Homo sapiens: one gene and its partner. The protein of the gene in region 2 purifies or fractionates together with the protein of the main gene of each other region. This does not show direct contact. Each region holds a gene or a part of one and is shown on either strand. Other genes may lie near its edges.

Evidence for each region. The genes of interacting proteins can lie anywhere in the genome.
Region 1: the proteins of PLXNC1 (region 2) and MANEA purify together in Homo sapiens (affinity purification with mass spectrometry; one large-scale study listed by BioGRID and IntAct). This does not show direct contact.

The regions. Positions count from the first base shown.
Region 1 is NC_000006.12:95,597,948-95,601,534, forward strand, and holds part of MANEA (glycoprotein endo-alpha-1,2-mannosidase), read left to right. Parts: intron 1-3,587.
Region 2 is NC_000012.12:94,245,994-94,249,580, forward strand, and holds part of PLXNC1 (plexin-C1 precursor), read left to right. Parts: intron 1-1,909; coding exon 1,910-2,113; intron 2,114-2,233; coding exon 2,234-2,419; intron 2,420-3,587.

The sequences.
Region 1 (3,587 bases), on a different chromosome or scaffold from region 2:
GAAAAGAAATATACCTATAGTTTCAGAAGAGAGTTTAAGATTTTATATCAGTCTATTTAAAATTTATATGGTAGTTTTATAGGAAAATACTAAAATTAATTTTTTTTGGTGCAGAAAGAGGTTTAAAGAATCTGAATTGACTATCCTAGAAAAAAACGTATAAAAGATAATTGAACAAATGTCTTCCCCAAAGTGTCAGGTTTACCTCTCAGTTGTATTCAGAATAGTTGATTTTTATGATAACTGAAATACAGTGTCAAGTATACTCACTATCTATTGCTGCATAACAAATTATTCCAAAACTTGGTAGCTTAAAACAATAAACATTTGTTACCTCACACAATTTCTAAGGGTCAAGCATCTGGAAGTGGCTTATTTGGGAGTGTCTGGTTCAGGGTCTCTGAAGGAGGTTACAGGCAAGCTATTGGCTGGTGCTGTAGTCATCTGAGGCTAGAGGATCCACTAACAGACTTTCTCATGTGGTGGATGACAGACCTCAGTTCTTTGCAGCAGGTGAACTGGAGACTCTGTACTTCTATATATGGGCCTCCAGCTTCACTAGAGTGAAAGATCTGAGAGAGAGTCTAATATAGGGGCTACAGGGTTGTTTTTGTTTGTTTTGTTTTTTGACATAAATCTTGGCAATGACGTGTTAATACTTCTGTCCCATTCTGTTGTTTTATCTACGGATAAAACAACCATGGCACAATGTGGGAGGGAACTGCAAAGTTATGAATACCAGGAGATGGGTATCGGGGGGCCATCTTGAAGAATGGCAACCACAGAAAACTTCCAAATTTATTCCACAATAGCACAATTTTTATTTAAAACTAAGAAAGGATAGAACAAGAAAGAGACAGACTAATCTTACCAATGAAAATAGATTCAAAATTCCTAGAGGGAATTTTGAGAAGAAGTGTTTATTAGCAAGGATTTAAGAATGGTTCCAATCATATGAAATCTGAATCTAAATTCAGGTCTGCATTCAATCCTGGCTCAACCACCTTGTAGCTTTATAAATGACTTGTGTCTCAGCTTCTTCATCTCTAAAATAGAAATAGCAACAAAACCTTCCTTACACACAGAATGGTTATAAAGATTATATTAGATAATATATGTAAAACATAGATTGCTGTCTGGCACAGAGTAAGCACTAAGTAAATAAAACTTCATTGATTATTTAAAGAAGGTAAAACATGGTTATCTTAAGAGATACTGAAAATTTTAGGAAATAAAAATTCATTGTTAATGAAGTCCTTAGTAACCAAAGTTCTTTAGCTTGATAAAGGGTGTCTCTTAGTATCTTATTTCAAACACTATATCTGATGGATATACTACACCTGTAGTCCCAGCTACTACTCAGGAGGCTGAGGCATGAGAATTGCTTGAACCTGGGAGGCAGAGATTGCAGTGAGCTGAGATTGGTGCCACTGCACTCCAGCCTGGGCGACAGAGTGAGAGTCTATCTCAAAAAAAAAAAAAAAAGTGATGTAGGTTCTTTTAACTAGAGACCACTCTGAGATTGCAACCACTCTTAAAATTTGCTGAAGCTTTTTATTTGCTCTGTAACTTCTTGCAGTTATATTCTAATGGAGGACAATCTGGTTTGTCCAATACTGGTAATTGAGCCCTGTAAGATATGTTATGGACCACTGTTGAAATATTTCGTTTCAAATAAAAATGTGAAACATTAGTTTTGTCTTAATTTTCCTTTTGCAGCCTAGAGATTGAGTAGTTATTGGAGAATAGAAATGGAACTGTAGGGAGTGAGAAAGAGCTAAATAGGCAAGCATTTTTTTATTTCTGTCCATAAAGCTGCCTCTTCTTTCTGATTTACTATCCTGAAACTGTTAAGACAGCATCTCTCAAATTAGCTGTCTAGCAAGAGCTGTCACCTGCCATGTCCCTTGGTGCCTTTCAGTGAGTTCTTATTGGCATTTGAAATCTGCAAATAGGCAAGCCTCCAGGTTCTGGTGCCCAGGCTGAGGTTGGGTAAGTGATTGATTTATCTTCCACAAAACAAGCCCAAGAGCTGCTTTTCTGTCCAGGCCCTGCCAAAATCCTGGAAGATGGAAGCTCAAGAAACTGGCTATTTTAGTACTTTCAGGAAGTTTTGAAAGAGAAAATGAAAATGTTATGATATATGAGGATTGGTTGGCTTTTTCTCCTGTTTAAAGTGTCTGTGTAGAGAAGGAGAGTGTGGCAAAGAGCTCGACCACTAATTGCCTATTTAATGTTGCCAGCATACTTGATCTCTCTGTGCTAGGGATTTTATATCTAATGATCAGAAAAACTTGGAACACGATAGACTAATGTTTTCCAAAATTTTTAGAACAGTTTCTTGGCCTCGTGTATGGTGAGGAACTATGTATAGACAAAGAATAGACCTGGAATCATGAGACTGGAGCTTGTTCTAACTGAGTAGCTCTGGAATCTTATATTAGTTCCTTGATCTTCTTGGCTTATCCCCTTCATTTGTACAATGACAATGAAACCATAAGATAGTTTTATTGGATTTGTCTATGATTTCTGTTGTTGTGGAACAGACATTTTTCCTAACTCAATAAAATGCAGTAAATCCTGTTTTTTTAAAGAATGGAAAACTTTCCCTTTTCTTGCTAATATAAGGAAATTTTAATATGTTTAATGAATGACAGTACCTTACTAGAATTATTCAGTGTGCTAAGGCAATCTGATAGGAAAAGATTAATGATGTTGTAGATTGTGTGCTGACAAATTGGAGCCTCCAATGCACATAACTGACCACATCTAAAACTTTTAAGTGTAAAATGCGTTCATTAGTAACATCTCTTTTTTCTTGCTAGTCTTCAAAGCATGGAAATACTAAATGGATGGAGAATTTTTAGGGAATGAATCCGTCTCACAGTTAAACTTTTGTTATAGTTCATTCATTTTGATTATATAATGTTTTTACTAATATTAGTCATTAAATATTTTGTAATTGTAATTTTGATTTGTTAACTTCAACCAAGAGTTATTTTAAGTAAGTGCCTTTTAAATTATAAACAAACATGCAAGAAAAGGAAATGATTGGTGCTTTAGTTATTTTTCATTATCTTTAGCAAATGTGACTAGGTTTTTTTTTGGAAGTGTAAATGAGTGAAACTAAAATTTAAATCTTGATTTTTCAAAGCGATTTAGTTTCTGTTCTTTTAAAGTATACTTGTCTGCATGTTTGCTAGAGCAAAGGCTGTTGCACTTATAACTGTCATTTAGTAGGCTGGTTTTGCAGAGAGTGTAAAAATCAGGGCTGGATTCCTTCCTCTATATCCTGCACCATTAAGAACACAGCAACGGAACAATTTTTTGAGTAAGACATGACAGAAATATTTGGTAGATTCCGTCATTGTTTAGCAAATAATCTGGTTTTCCTTCCCCTGCATGCAAAGAGTAAGTATACTTCCTGCCCTGTTGTTGTTGGGTTTGGCCTTATGGCTTGCTTTGGCTGATGAGATGTGAGAAGAGATAATGTATACTATGTGCTTGCATGATTATGCTCTTATTCTCTTTTATAAGAAAAGCATGCCCCTTTCTGCCTAGGACTCAGAATGACAGACACGTGGAGC
Region 2 (3,587 bases):
TGGGAAAAGAGACTATGCAGAAAGCAGTAGACTAGGGAAAGGGGAGGATTCTGACCCAAAAGGCTTCGGTGTCCTGTCTTGAGTCCTGGGAAACCACGAGAAAAGAAGAGAGTGTCCAACCCCCAGCAGGGGCCAGCTCCTGAAGTGCTTGTTGCCGCTGAATCACTCTTTGTTGGGGAACCTCCTGCAGGGCGGTTATTATTTTGGCAATGGTGCACAGCTGAGTTTGGAGAGGCAGGAACTGAAGAAAGGCTGGGAGCCCAGTGAGGATGCTCATGCCAGTGCAGGTGTGTCTGAGACGTCCACAGTCTCTCTGGGCTGACAGTAGCTCCCTTTGGGCTGTGGTTAGCAGAGCAGGTCTCAAGTGCTGGGGCATCGTGAAGCTAGAGATGACCAGCTTGTCTTTATAGCAGTATCGTTGAAGGGAGAGTGGGGGTGACATCATGGGAGTGAGAGCACAGAGGAGGAAGAAAAGAGCACCTAGGACTGGTGGCAAAGCTTCATTTTAAGGAATGACAGACAGTAGGATGGGCCGTGAAGGTGGCCGAGAAGGTGCTCAGAAACCAGTGAAAAAGAGTAAATCGCATGGCGCGAGTTTGTCACGAGTATGGAACTGTAGAGTCTTGAGGATAATAGGGTTGGGTGATCCTCTCACCTGCAATCCTTCTAGAAGGCATCTTCAGTAAAAAGCCAGCCTGCTAGGAGTTAAGGCTGCTGAGGCAGTAGAGACAGTGGTTTTCATCCTGAGGACAGAAATGTGAGCAGGAGATTCAGGGCTATAGTTTGGAAAGATGTGAAGGGAAAGGAAGGTTGTGCTTGTCCAAATCTCAGCTCTTTACATCATATTTTCCCACCAATTGCCTCTTCCTATTGTCTTTTTTATGCTCTAGTATCAGGGGGTGGCGGGGGTGGGGGAAAAATAGTTTTTCCCACCTGATAAATTTCTTTTTATGAGTTATAATTGCTTTTCTGTAGAATGTTTGCCATCCTCCCCTAACCCACCAGCCTCCTCTGCCTGTCCTTCTGTACACCTAAACAGGACAATATATTTATGTTATGTATTTACTAACTTTTTAAATTTTATTTTTTATATATATAGAGAGAGACAGGGTCTCACTGTGTTACCCAGGCTGATCTCCAACTCCCGGGCTCACGTAACCCTCCTCCCTCCGTTTCCCACAGCGCTGGGATTACAGGCGTGAGCCACTACGCCCAGCCTATTTATGTGTTGTTGTTTTTTTTTAATCCTGTAAATCAGGCCACCTTTTTTGCATTGTTTTCAGTTTTCATGCTCTTCATTTCATGGGAGATGCATTGTTCCTTTTACTTTTGTTTTCTCCTGTTTTCTGTTATGCCTGAAAACCCTTGTCCTCCTTGTGTCTAGTGACTTCTGCTAAGGCCCTGCAGGAGGTTCCCCCAACAAAGGGTGATTCAGCTGCAACAAGCGCTTCAGGAGCTGGCCCTTGCTGAGAGTTGGACACTTTTCTTTTCTCGTGGTTTCCCAGGGCTCAGACAGGCTGACCCCAAGGACACCTAAGCCCCTTGGGTCAGAATCTTCCCCTTTCCCTAGCCTACTGCTTTCAGCCTAGTCTCTTTTCCCATGGCATAACCTTCCAGCTGCTTTCATTGTCACTCATGATATTAATCATAATATTAACTAGCATGTTTTGAGTGCTTACTGTGTGCCGGGCCCTGATCTAAGCATGTATAATCTCAGTTAACGTAGCCCTCATTTAATGTAATGTAGGGTGAAGTCAATCCTGTGAGGGAGGTAGTTTTGCTGTCTCCATATTACACATGAGAAAACAGAAGCACCAAGAAGTTAAGTTGCTCAGGTCACTTAGCTCTTAGAGATCACAGCTGGGATTCGTTAACAAAGTTACTAAAACATTCTTTTCTTTTTGTCCAGGTCTCTGAATATTGTGTGGCGACTTACTGCGGGTTTTTAGCCCCCAGTTTAAAGAGTTCAAAAGTGCGCACGAATGTCACTGTGAAGCTGAGAGTACAAGACACCTACTTGGATTGTGGAACCCTGCAGTATCGGGAGGACCCCAGATTCACGGGGTATCGGGTGGAATCCGAGGTGGACACAGAACTGGAAGTGAAAATTCAAGTATGTTTCTTTTCTTTCTGGGTGGGATGTCACCCCGACCCCTTGACTGGAAAGGTGTGTTTATGCTCGTGAGTTTCTACATGTGCTCTGATTTCTCCATCTTCATTTTGTTCTTTACAGAAAGAAAATGACAACTTCAACATTTCCAAAAAAGACATTGAAATTACTCTCTTCCATGGGGAAAATGGGCAATTAAATTGCAGTTTTGAAAATATTACTAGAAATCAAGATCTTACCACCATCCTTTGCAAAATTAAAGGCATCAAGACTGCAAGCACCATTGCCAACTCTTCTAAGAAAGTTCGGGTAAGTGACCTGGCAGTCCCACCTGCTGTCTTTACCTGATTTTTGTGATAATTCCTTGGCTAAACCAGAGGCCAGAATGGAATCTTTCATGGATCTTCAGATCCTCACTTTAAATAGAAGATAAACAAAGCTGGTACTGCGAGCCCAAGCAAAATAGCTCCAAAATAGCTGGCTGAATCCATCCCTGTGCCTGTTCGAACGTCAAAGCGTTGGACACACCATTGTCTATAATCCTAATGAGTCTTGATAGCTTTTGTTCTAGCCACACATTTATACAGTAGGATCGGCAAGCAAAATCTCTAGACCCATTGACAAATGAGCTGTCACTCTTTTCTCAAATGCGGAGGTGACATGTCTTAGCAGAAACCCAAAACAAACAAGGGCCTCTTCAGCACACTCTGGGTAGCATTAGAATCAGATGGAGACCAGATAATCTCTGGGTCATGGGCTGCTTCCTTCACCATGAAGTCATACTTTCTGCGATTAATCTTTTCCCAGATATGTTTGGGGGACGGATCACTGCTATATTTATATCCCATAATAAAGATGTGAGACCACTGAGAAGGGAAACACATTAGAAGTCACCCTTTATAGTATTCATGCCGTATGAGGCTCTGTACAGCCTATATAAATTCTTCTTGATCTATCATCATAAATAATTGGATAAAAGACAATGCAAAAGAACTTCAGACTGGAAGGCAACAACAAAAATGTGTTCATGTCCCACTGGCACCAGTTAATAGCTCTGTGGCCTTAGGTAAATCACTTGAGTTTCCTGAGCCTCTCTTAGTCCATCTGTATGATAAATGGGGTTAATAATAAGTTTTATTTGTTTTTTTAGACAGAGTCTCACTTTGTTACCCAGGCAGGAGTACAGTGGCACGATCTTGGCTTACAGCAACCTCCGCTTCCCAGTTTTAAGCAATTCTCATGCCTCAGTCACCCAAGTAGCTGGGATTACAGGTGCGCACCACCACACCTGGCTAGTTTTTTCTATTTTTAGTAGAGACGGAGTTTCACTGTGTTGGGCTGGCTGGTCCCAAACTCCTTGCCTCAAGTGATCTGCCTGCCTCGGCCTCCCAAAGTGCTGGCATTACAGGTGTGAGCTACCGCGCCCAGCCAATAGTAAGTTTTAAGTCAGGAATAACAACTAGGCTGGGAGAGACAA